2 separate regions of the Homo sapiens genome follow, and region 1 is linked to region 2. Evidence: fine-mapped QTL for protein levels in blood plasma. A gene starts in region 2. The other region holds a variant in brackets. All regions are shown on one strand. Distances are from middle to middle.

Region 1 (5,380 bases), 14 kb before region 2:
GATTGGCAAATCTTTTTCATAAAGTGTCAAATGTTGTAAATACTTTAGATTTGTAAGCTACCACCCTCTCCAAACATCTTTCCCCACAACATAAACTGCTCTAGAATATATAGTATTAAATAAGAAATGTTGTCTACTATTCTATTTAGTGGTTATACATAGTTCCACCCAAAATATAGTATTTTCTCATCATTCACTGTTATACTGAAAACTTTATGTAGTGTGTATTTACCACCATTTTAAAGTCACAACTACTCAGTTATGCCGTTGTGGTGCAAAAGCAACCATAACAAATGAGTGTGGCTGTGTTCCAATAAAACTTTATTTGCAAAAACAGGTGAGAGACTAGATTTGGTCCTTAGCCCTATTTCACAGACCTCTGCTGTAGAGTGTGGAAGGCCTTTTAAATAAACTAAGAGCTAAAATTCAGAAGCACACAAGAAAAGATTGATACATTCAACTTTAAATTTAAAACTTCTGTAAGGCAAAAACAACACATTAAAGTCAAAAGATGAGTGACAAACCACAAATTAGTTTTTGCAACTCATTTCACAAAAGAAGAAACTCTCAAATATATAAAATCTTCTAGAAGCTCTCACCTTCAGTGCCACTTTTTCTTTCTTCCTGATCATTCCATCCAGCAGACCAATATGCTCCCTTTTTCCCCATCTTAAAAGACATTTCTCTTGATGTCATTTCCCTCACCAGTTACTGCCCCTTTTACTACTTTCCTTTGCAGTGAAACTCCCTGAATTGTCTCCAATATCTTCTTTTTCTCTCTTAAATCCTATCTAGTGTCTTTCCTTCTGCCACTTCTACTGAAACTGCTTTTTGTCAAGACTCCCACATTGCTCAAGCCGGTGGTCAATTTTAGCCAGTGGTCAATTTGACTTTACTTTTCAGCAGTTGATGCAGAAGTCCATTTCCTCTTTCTTGAAAAAACATTTGCACATGACATCTAGAATACCAAATCTCAAACTCTTTTGGTTTTCCTCTACCTCTCTGGTCCCTCATTCTCAGGCTACTTTGCTCTTCCTTTCTCACCTTCTGGCCTCTCAATGTCAGCTCACTGCAAGACTTGATGTGGACACCTTCTTGCCTCTTTCTCCACTCAATTCCTTGGTCATCTTATCTATTGTCATATCTTTAAATGTCATCAAAAGGCAAACAACTCCTGAATTTATTTATCAAGGCCTGATCTCACTCCTTAACTCCAGATTTGGAGATACAACTGACATCTCAGGGTCTAATAGACATCCAAATCTTGACATATCTTCAACTGAGCTCCCAATGCCAACCCCAAACCTACTCCCTGTTACTGTTGGGGGCAACCCCATACTTTCAGTTACTCTGGCCAAAAAATCTGCAGTCATCCTTGGCTGTCTTCCTTCTTTCTCACAGATTATTTGCTCTATTTTTAACATATATCTGGAATCCAACCATTTTTCACCCCTTCCCTGCTACCACTCTGCTCATGCCCTCCTTAGAGTCATCATGTCAGGTTTTCTGTGGTCTCGGATGCTCTGCCCCCGTGATTTGCGTGGCTCACTCCTTCACCTTCTTCAAGTCTTTGTGACTTTCTGCATAGCACTCATCACTGTCTCACAAACCAAGTCATTTACTTGTAAAATTGTGTCTCTTATTCATTTTCTGTTTAAACTGTAAGCCTTGTATGTATTTTGTTTTTAAATATATCCCAAATGCTTGGAACAGTTCCTGGCCACAGTAAGCTCTCAAAATATTTATTAAAAGAATGAATAAAATTGATTTTAAAAAGATCAACAACCCAGAAAAAAGGTCAAAGAATATTTTAGATATTCTTATATAATATCTAATATTATATATAATAGAAAATTTTTAAGGAAAGGTAAAAAATGGCTTGTAAATACATGAAAAGATGCTTAATCTCATTTATAATAAAAGAAATGTAATTTAAGATAATTCAAAATACCTCTTCCCCTTCCCCCTTTTTTAATTGTCACATTATAAGAATCCAAAATGTGACTATATGTGGTTCAGGCTGTGGGAAAATGACATCTTTTAGATTGTTAGTGAGAGTGGGACTTTTTAAATCCCCTATGTACAGCAATTTGGCAACTATGTATAAG[A/T]TTTACAAATGTCTGTTGAACCCACAATCCCACTTTGTTTTTTTTCTTTCCCACTCACCTGGGCTGGAGTGAAAAGGAGTGAAGACGGCTCACTGCAAGCTCAACCTCTCAGACTGAAGCGATCCTCCCACTTCAGCCCCCCAACTAGCTAAGCCTACAGGCTCGTGCCACCACACCCAGCTAGCTTTTTTGTATTTTTAGTAGAGGCAGGGTTTTGCCATGTTCGCTAGCTCAGATTGGTCTTGAACTCCTGAGCTCAAGTGATCTGCCTGCCTCAGCCTCTCAAAGTGCCTGGGATTACAGGTGTGAGCCATGGTGTCCAGCCTCACAATCCCACGTTTGAGAAACTTTCCTACAAATATACATATAAAAAATGACAAATTTATAAAGTTATTAGTTTCGTTACGTTTTAATAACAAAAGACTGGAAACAAAGTGCACATTATAGAGGACTGGTAAAAAAATTACAATACATCTATACAATGAAATTTTTTCTGTCGAAAATTGTTTTTAACAAAGATTGAAGATGGCTTTTAGTTCTAAAATGGAAAGATGTCCAAGAGAGAATATTAAATAATAAAATCAAGATGCCAAGCAGTGTGTATAGCATGTTGCATTTGTTTATAAGAAAAGGAGAAATATAAGAACATATATTAATTTTTGCTTTTATTTGCATAAAGAAAGTTGGGAAACATATGCAAAAAGTTAATAAAAATGATTACCCCAGTGGGAGGTAGGAAAATGAGATAAATGTTGACAGGGATAGGAGCAAGACTTTCAAGTTGCATCTTTAAAAAAAAATTACGGCCGGGTGCGGTGGCTCACGCCTGTAATCCCAGCACTTTGGGAGGCTGAGGCGGGCGGATCACGAGGTCAGTAGATCGAGACCATCCTGGCTAACATGGTGAAACCCCATCTCTACTAAAAATACAAAAAATTAGCCGGGCATGGTGGCAGGCGCCTGTAGTCCCAGCTACTCGGGAAACTGAGGCAGGAGAATGGTGTGAACCCAGGAGGCGGAGCTTGCAGTGAACCGAGATGGCGCCACGGTGCCACTGCACTCCAGCCTGGGCGAAAGAGCTAGACTCTGTCTCAAAAAAAAAAAAAAAAATTCAAATGATAATTCAAAAAATTAATCAAAAGAAATTATGTGTATGCATTAACAAATTTTAAAATAATTTTTTAAACTACATAATATAAATGTACATAGCATAAATTCTCTAAGAGAAAATAATCCTCAGATTATTTCTTAAAATTAAACTATTAGATTATCATCCTTTATCATTCTTAAATTTAGTTTAATTTTTATATAATGGATAACGTGGTCTTCTAGGTTACTAGAAAATATAAATGTTGTGTCCTTATCATCCCTTGCTTCTCTAACATCTAAACTAATTGTGCCATTTCTCTGTCCTATTTTCATAATTTCAGTTCCACTAAGAAAGTTCCCATCTCAAGAGGATGCTGTTTGATTTCTTGTTATTCACCATCCGTGTGATCCATGGGGGGAAGAAAAGGTATTAAAGAAGAGAAGCATATTAATGTTATTACTCCTTTCTAACTTTACAGAGTGGCTACTCTTTTAAATTCTTTTGAGACAAACACCTGAAAGAAAATGTTGATATGTGAGATAAGCAATAAGCAGTGTTTGAATACATGCATATGTTAAAGGACACCATTAAAATTAAAAATAACTCTAGAAAGGAAACAAAGCATGCAAAATTGCCTTATGTGGCTTGCTAGAAGTAAAATAAATGTTGAAAAACTAGAGTTTGTTTCTTAAAAAGCAAGCAGAGCTAAAGGTACGTCTTGCAATCTATAGTTTACTAGTGACAAACCTCGTATATTGATCTCTATGTCTGACTTCTGACTATTGATCAGTTTCCATGGTGCCATGGTGGCGGCAGGAGTGGTGGGTAGTTGTTATTTGTTGGACCCCTAAAACCCTAACAAACTTCAGCTACAAGTTATATATATAATCACACGCCAAGTCTCATGATCATTTAACTCATTTTTATTGAGCACCTACTAAGAGCCAAGTATCTTCCAAGTATACAAGTATGTTATTCTAAGTATGGGGATTTTAATGGTGAGCAAAACGAAACACGTATCCCTGCTCTCAGGGAGCTTACAATTATGAAATGTTAGACACATCAAACTAAAAATAACACTTTGACTATATACCTAAATAGACAGTTAGAGCTATCTTTAAAGATAAAGTTCTTTAAAGGATCTTTAAAGGTAAATTATAAGATATCGTGGGATCATACAATGAGGTGAGTTGGAGAGGAACCTAATCTAGATTGAGGGATCATGGAGAAATGACATATAGAGTAAATGTGAAGGATAAGTGGGAGTTCGCTGAAAGAGAAAATAGAATGATGAAGAGCCCCGGGCAGGAAGTAGTTTGGCATGCTCAGGAGAAAATAGAATGAGGAAGAGCCCCGGGCAGGAAGTAGTTTGGCACGCTCAGGACCCTCAAATTGTCTATCATGTTTACTTACCTATAGTTTATGTAAAATATTTAAATTCTAAATCAACGTTCTGCATACTTTCTATAAAGAGCCAGAAAGTAAATACTTTAGACGTTGTGAGCCATACAGTGTCTGTTGTAACTTCTCAACTTTGTCATTGCAGCAAGAAAGCAGCCATAAGCAATATGTAAATGAATAGGTGTGGCTGCATTCTCACAAAACGTTATTTACAAAAACAGGTGGTAGGGAGGTGGCCCATAGGTTACAGTTTGCCAATCCCTGTTCTATCAGGCCCTTCTAAAACTCAGTTATAAACTTCAGTTGCATAAAGATATTTATTTTGATCAATACATATTTATTGGAAATCTATTGTCTTAATTCATTTGTGTTGCTATAAAAGAATACAGGGTAATTTATAAAGAAAAGAGGTTTATTTGGCTTATGGTTCTGCAGGCTGTGCAAGAAGCATGGCACTAGCACCTGCTTCTGATGAGAGCCTCAGGCTGCTTCTACTCATGGCAGAAGGTGAAGGGGAGCTGGTGTGTGCAGAAATCGTGTGCCGAGAGAGCAAGCAAGAGAGAGAGGAGGGAGGTAGTAGGCTCTTTTAAACAACCAGCTCTCACAGGAACTAATAAAGCAAGAACTCATCCATTACTACAAGGACAACATAAAGCCATTCATAAGGGTGCTACCCCTATGACCCAAACACTTCCCATTAGGACTCACCTCCAACATTGGGGATCAAATTTCAACATAACATTGGAGGGGTCAAAGAAACCAAACTATAGTATCTATTGAG
Region 2 (5,320 bases):
AAGATATAAAAAAGATTCATTGCTTTATATTGTCCTGTAACTTAAAAAAAAGATTCAAGTTGAAACTCTAGAGATGAAAGCTACCAGGTATAAGGTGCAAAATACACTGGATAGGATTGGCAGTAATCAGATATTACAGAAGAAAACATTAGTGAACTCACAGACATAGCAATAGAGACTATCCAAAATAAAATATGAAGGAAAAAATGAGCAAAACAGAAGCAAAAACAGATCACCAACAAACTGTGGGCCAATATACACTCACCGTCTGACTCAGCCATTCTGGTTTTAAGTATTTTCCAAGAGAATTAAAGGCTTTATGTCCATACAAAGACTTGCATATGAATGTCAAGGCAGCTTTATTCGTAAAAGTTTCAAGTGAAAATAACCAAAAATTCATGAGCAGTAGAATTGATTAAAAATTTTGAAGTATATCATATAATGAAATACTGCCCAGCAATAAAAAAGAATAAACTATTGCTACATTTAACAATGTGAGTGGATTCAAAAATAATGATGCTAAGTGAAAGAAGTCAGACAAAGAGTACCTACCGTGGAACTATATTTATGTGCAATTCTAGAAAACGCAAACAAATCTCTAGTGATAGCAGATCAATGGAGGAGGGGGTGAGGAAGAGGCAAAAGGAAGGAATTACAAAGGTACATGTGGAAATTTGGGGAAGTGATGTATAATCTTCATTTTCTTGGTTTCAGTGATGGCTTCCTGAGCATATAACACACATGCATATGTGTAAGAATATATCCAATTGAATATTTTACACATTTGTAGCTTTGTATATATTCAGCAGTATCTATTCATTCCTTCTGCTTCTTTACCTTAGGTTTAGTCATGAAACCACTGGGTTTCATGTGGTCCAGGTTCTATCTGAATCAAGCTATGAACCTGCTATCAGTAAGACCTCCTAATTGCAAACCACATGGACCTTTACCGGTTATTTGACTTCTCTCGGTCATTACCTTCTCTAGTCTCCACTGATTCACCTCCTTTTGAATCTCAACAAGCTCAACAGTATCTCAATGTTATCTTAACAAAGCTGTTAGAAATAAACAACTTGACTTTGAAACAAAGGAGAGAAATGGCTCAGCAGCTAGGAGAAGATGCAGGGTTGAGTTGCCAACAGTTGGTTTTGTTTGTATTTTGGCCAGGGGATGTGGCTTGGACTGGAGAGAAAGGAGATAAGGATGTAAGCACATGTAGGGCATATCACCCCCTATTTTTTATTCTCTGAATCCTTAACCCTCAGAATAAGTTCTTATTCTTGAGAATCAATGACATTATCTTAAGCTAAATTAATCAAGCCTCCACAGTGTTCTTCTCTCAATAGTGGTGTGGGCCTTCCTAGAAGTAATTTTTCCCAAATTCAGTGATACATTTTAAGTTCAGATTTTAATTGATATGAATCTGTGATACACTCTAAAATAAGATTATTTTATTGAAAAGTGGACTGTAACTTTCCCTTTATCTAGGAAGAGCTCTAAGTTAGAAGATGTTTTGCACTTTTACCGAAGGCTGTGTCTTGTAAGCACCCCCGAGCAACTCTGAGAGCCTTGATTTTTGTGTCCTCAGCATATGTTTGTGTAATACAGAAAGAGAAGCAGTTGCCAAGTGAAAGGGATGTTGGTCTCCAAAATTATAGTTTGATCCCACAAACACACAAACACATACATGCAAAGGATTGTTTGCTTCACGGTTTTTGATATTTAATTCAATGCTGTTGGAACAGCACAAAAACTAAGTGTCAGTTTAACAGAATCACTTGTCCTTTTAGCATTAAAATAACATGGAACTTAATGCTTTAATTTCCCAACATGCCTTTTTATTTAGAAAGATTCAGACTTATATTTCATTTAGAAATAAAATGCCATTTTATTTAGAAAGATACAGGAGCATTCATTCACGGAACTTTCAGATCTCAGTCCACTGCATAAAATCTTGATCCTGTAATAATAGTTTCTGTATCTTGCATATTCATTCAACAGGTTTAACGCGATGAGCAAATTAATGTTCATCGTTTTTAACATGTTTCATCTTAATCAGAACCCACATTCTCAACGTTAATTGAACGTACATAGGACTATACAAGGGTTAGTAAATAAGACAGAAACTGTTGTTCATTTAACCACCGTCACTTTGGACCAAAAAAGAAAAAATATATATTTTTAAAATTGAGCTTAAAAGAGTCTCTAGAAGCTGGAAGCGTGGCTCTTTTTCAGCAAACTGGGGGAATAGGTTTACCGTGTTCCCCCTCTGGGGAATTTTGAGTCGCCACACTCATGTCTCGACCGAGCCTGGCTCGCTGCGTCTGAGCGAGTACTTGAGGAAGGCTGATCTAGAAAAACCAGCTGAGAGAAGGGGCAGAAGCCCCTGAAACCACGGGCGGGGGTGGGGTGGGGAGCGCAGCTTTGGGACCCTCTAGCCGGAGACTTCCGGCAGCTGCCTCCGACTTGTTCTAAGTACAGGAAAAATCTGTGCGCCCAGTTGCCTCACTCCAACAGCGCGCAGTTGTGCCCGGCGAGGATGCCGCGCTAGTCGTGGAGATGCCCCACCACAAAGAGGATTCAGGTGCTTCCTACTCCGGCACCCAGTGGGTTGGTAGTCCTGTTGGCAGGAGACAAGAATCGTCTGGGCTGCTCCTATCTCTGGCAGGACTAGACGGGGCGTGAAGGAAAGAAGGAAAGAAGGAAAGCAGGGATCGGGCACTGCCCGAGGGCAGATACTTGGGCTTTGGTGTTGTCCAGCGCGCTCGGAGTGCGCTGCCTCGCTCACGCGGTCCCAGGCCCCGCTTCTTCAGGCAGTGCCTGGGGCGGGAGGGTTGGGGTGTGGGTGGCTCCCTAAGTCGACACTCGTGCGGCTGCGGTTCCAGCCCCCTCCCCCCGCCACTCAGGGGCGGGAAGTGGCGGGTGGGAGTCACCCAAGCGTGACTGCCCGAGGCCCCTCCTGCCGCGGCGAGGAAGCTCCATAAAAGCCCTGTCGCGACCCGCTCTCTGCACCCCATCCGCTGGCTCTCACCCCTCGGAGACGCTCGCCCGACAGCATAGTACTTGCCGCCCAGCCACGCCCGCGCGCCAGCCACCGTGAGTGCTACGACCCGTCTGTCTAGGGGTGGGAGCGAACGGGGCGCCCGCGAACTTGCTAGAGACGCAGCCTCCCGCTCTGTGGAGCCCTGGGGCCCTGGGATGATCGCGCTCCACTCCCCAGCGGACTATGCCGGCTCCGCGCCCCGACGCGGACCAGCCCTCTTGGCGGCTAAATTCCACTTGTTCCTCTGCTCCCCTCTGATTGTCCACGGCCCTTCTCCCGGGCCCTTCCCGCTGGGCGGTTCTTCTGAGTTACCTTTTAGCAGATATGGAGGGAGAACCCGGGACCGCTATCCCAAGGCAGCTGGCGGTCTCCCTGCGGGTCGCCGCCTTGAGGCCCAGGAAGCGGTGCGCGGTAGGAAGGTTTCCCCGGCAGCGCCATCGAGTGAGGAATCCCTGGAGCTCTAGAGCCCCGCGCCCTGCCACCTCCCTGGATTCTTGGGCTCCAAATCTCTTTGGAGCAATTCTGGCCCAGGGAGCAATTCTCTTTCCCCTTCCCCACCGCAGTCGTCACCCCGAGGTGATCTCTGCTGTCAGCGTTGATCCCCTGAAGCTAGGCAGACCAGAAGTAACAGAGAAGAAACTTTTCTTCCCAGACAAGAGTTTGGGCAAGAAGGGAGAAAAGTGACCCAGCAGGAAGAACTTCCAATTCGGTTTTGAATGCTAAACTGGCGGGGCCCCCACCTTGCACTCTCGCCGCGCGCTTCTTGGTCCCTGAGACTTCGAACGAAGTTGCGCGAAGTTTTCAGGTGGAGCAGAGGGGCAGGTCCCGACCGGACGGCGCCCGGAGCCCGCAAGGTGGTGCTAGCCACTCCTGGGTTCTCTCTGCGGGACTGGGACGAGAGCGGATTGGGGGTCGCGTGTGGTAGCAGGAGGAGGAGCGCGGGGGGCAGAGGAGGGAGGTGCTGCGCGTGGGTGCTCTGAATCCCCAAGCCCGTCCGTTGAGCCTTCTGTGCCTGCAGATGCTAGGTAACAAGCGACTGGGGCTGTCCGGACTGACCCTCGCCCTGTCCCTGCTCGTGTGCCTGGGTGCGCTGGCCGAGGCGTACCCCTCCAAGCCGGACAACCCGGGCGAGGACGCACCAGCGGAGGACATGGCCAGATACTACTCGGCGCTGCGACACTACATCAACCTCATCACCAGGCAGAGGTGGGTGGGACCGCGGGACCGATTCCGGGAGCGCCAGTGCCTGCACACCAGGAGATCCTGGGGATGTTAGGGAAAGGGATTGTTTCTTTTCCTTCGCTCTATCCCAGGGCAGGACAGTATCAGGCACTTAGTCAGCTCTAGGTAAATGTTTGTACAGGGCACACTCTACACAAAATGGGTACCTTCCATTTTGTGCAACTACAGTCACAGAGTCGTGATCCCCAGATTCAGGTTCCCCAGGCTGGTAGGCTGGCAATCTCCTCTCACTCACCTCTTATGGTTTGTTGTGGTTCTTACGGCAGTGGGGCCCGGTCCAGAAATCTCGAAAGTACCCAGTGAAAGGGGCAAGAATGCGCCAGAGAAATGCTGTAGGGGGAAACGCTAGCAAGGTGTCTAGGAGAAACAGAACGACCACCAAAGAAAACCAAACCAAGGAGTAAACTGCAGGGTTGCCACAGACATTGTCAGACTTTCCGGCCTGCCCAGGGCTAATTGAATGACAGTATTTAGAAAAAGACAAATAGAGCTATTTTCTTTTCTTCTTCACTGTGTTTTTTTTGCAGTCTCACTCCCATATTTGAAAATTCTAGTCCCAATAATTAGAGATTTAGCCTGAAAACAGTTTATCTAAAATGCAGAGGTCTCCCTATTTTATAGCTGGTGAATTCTGAAAAGAAAGTGCCCACTTGGTATTTCATTAAGAAGAAACTTACGTTGGTCCAGTAACTTTAGGATGAATTCAGGGATTACATGGAATCTGAGAAATTGTAAACTTTATTCTGAACATTCCGAAAGTCAAAATGAAATGCCATATTTTCACTCTCAACATTGACAATTAAGGGAAAAATCAAATCCAAACTATTTTACAAATTACATAGGATTTAAATTTTGTTTTCAAAATTGGTTGATCTTAGTTCTAAATCATTTAATATCTTATTTTAATTACTGAGATTAAATGATTTTAGTCATTTGACCGTATCTAAAGGATAAGCCCTTTAGAAGCATTAATGTTAGTTAACATGTTTAAATTATATGTTTAAAGTATTGTGGGGTTTATATATTTATTTATTT

Alleles and levels. Alleles are on the strand shown, and positions count from the first base shown. The strength of an association depends on the size of the effect and on how common the allele is.
For the plasma level of the protein whose gene starts at base 3,011 in region 2, allele A in region 1 goes with a higher level than allele T (moderate association).

What was found. PIP is the chance, under the fine-mapping model, that this variant and not a neighbour inherited with it causes the effect. The UK Biobank Pharma Proteomics Project read protein levels with antibody pairs (Olink). The fine-mapping took linkage between variants from a reference panel, not from the people measured, so its PIPs are less certain.
Region 1: its variant is fine-mapped to the plasma level of the NPY protein (UK Biobank, PIP above 0.99).

The regions. Positions count from the first base shown.
Region 1 is chr7:24,267,371-24,272,750 of GRCh38, forward strand. The region is part of intron 2 of LOC107986777 (a long non-coding RNA gene); the gene reads right to left. Among named protein-coding and RNA genes, the nearest start is that of NPY, 14 kb to the right of the region's middle. The variant A/T (reference allele first, on the strand shown) is at 2,109.
Region 2 is chr7:24,281,180-24,286,499 of GRCh38, forward strand. NPY (neuropeptide Y) reads left to right here and starts at 3,011. Exons shown (of 4, transcript NM_000905.4): 1 at 3,011-3,096; 2 at 4,062-4,249. The coding sequence starts at 4,062. All of the region lies in intron 2 of LOC107986777 (a long non-coding RNA gene), which reads right to left.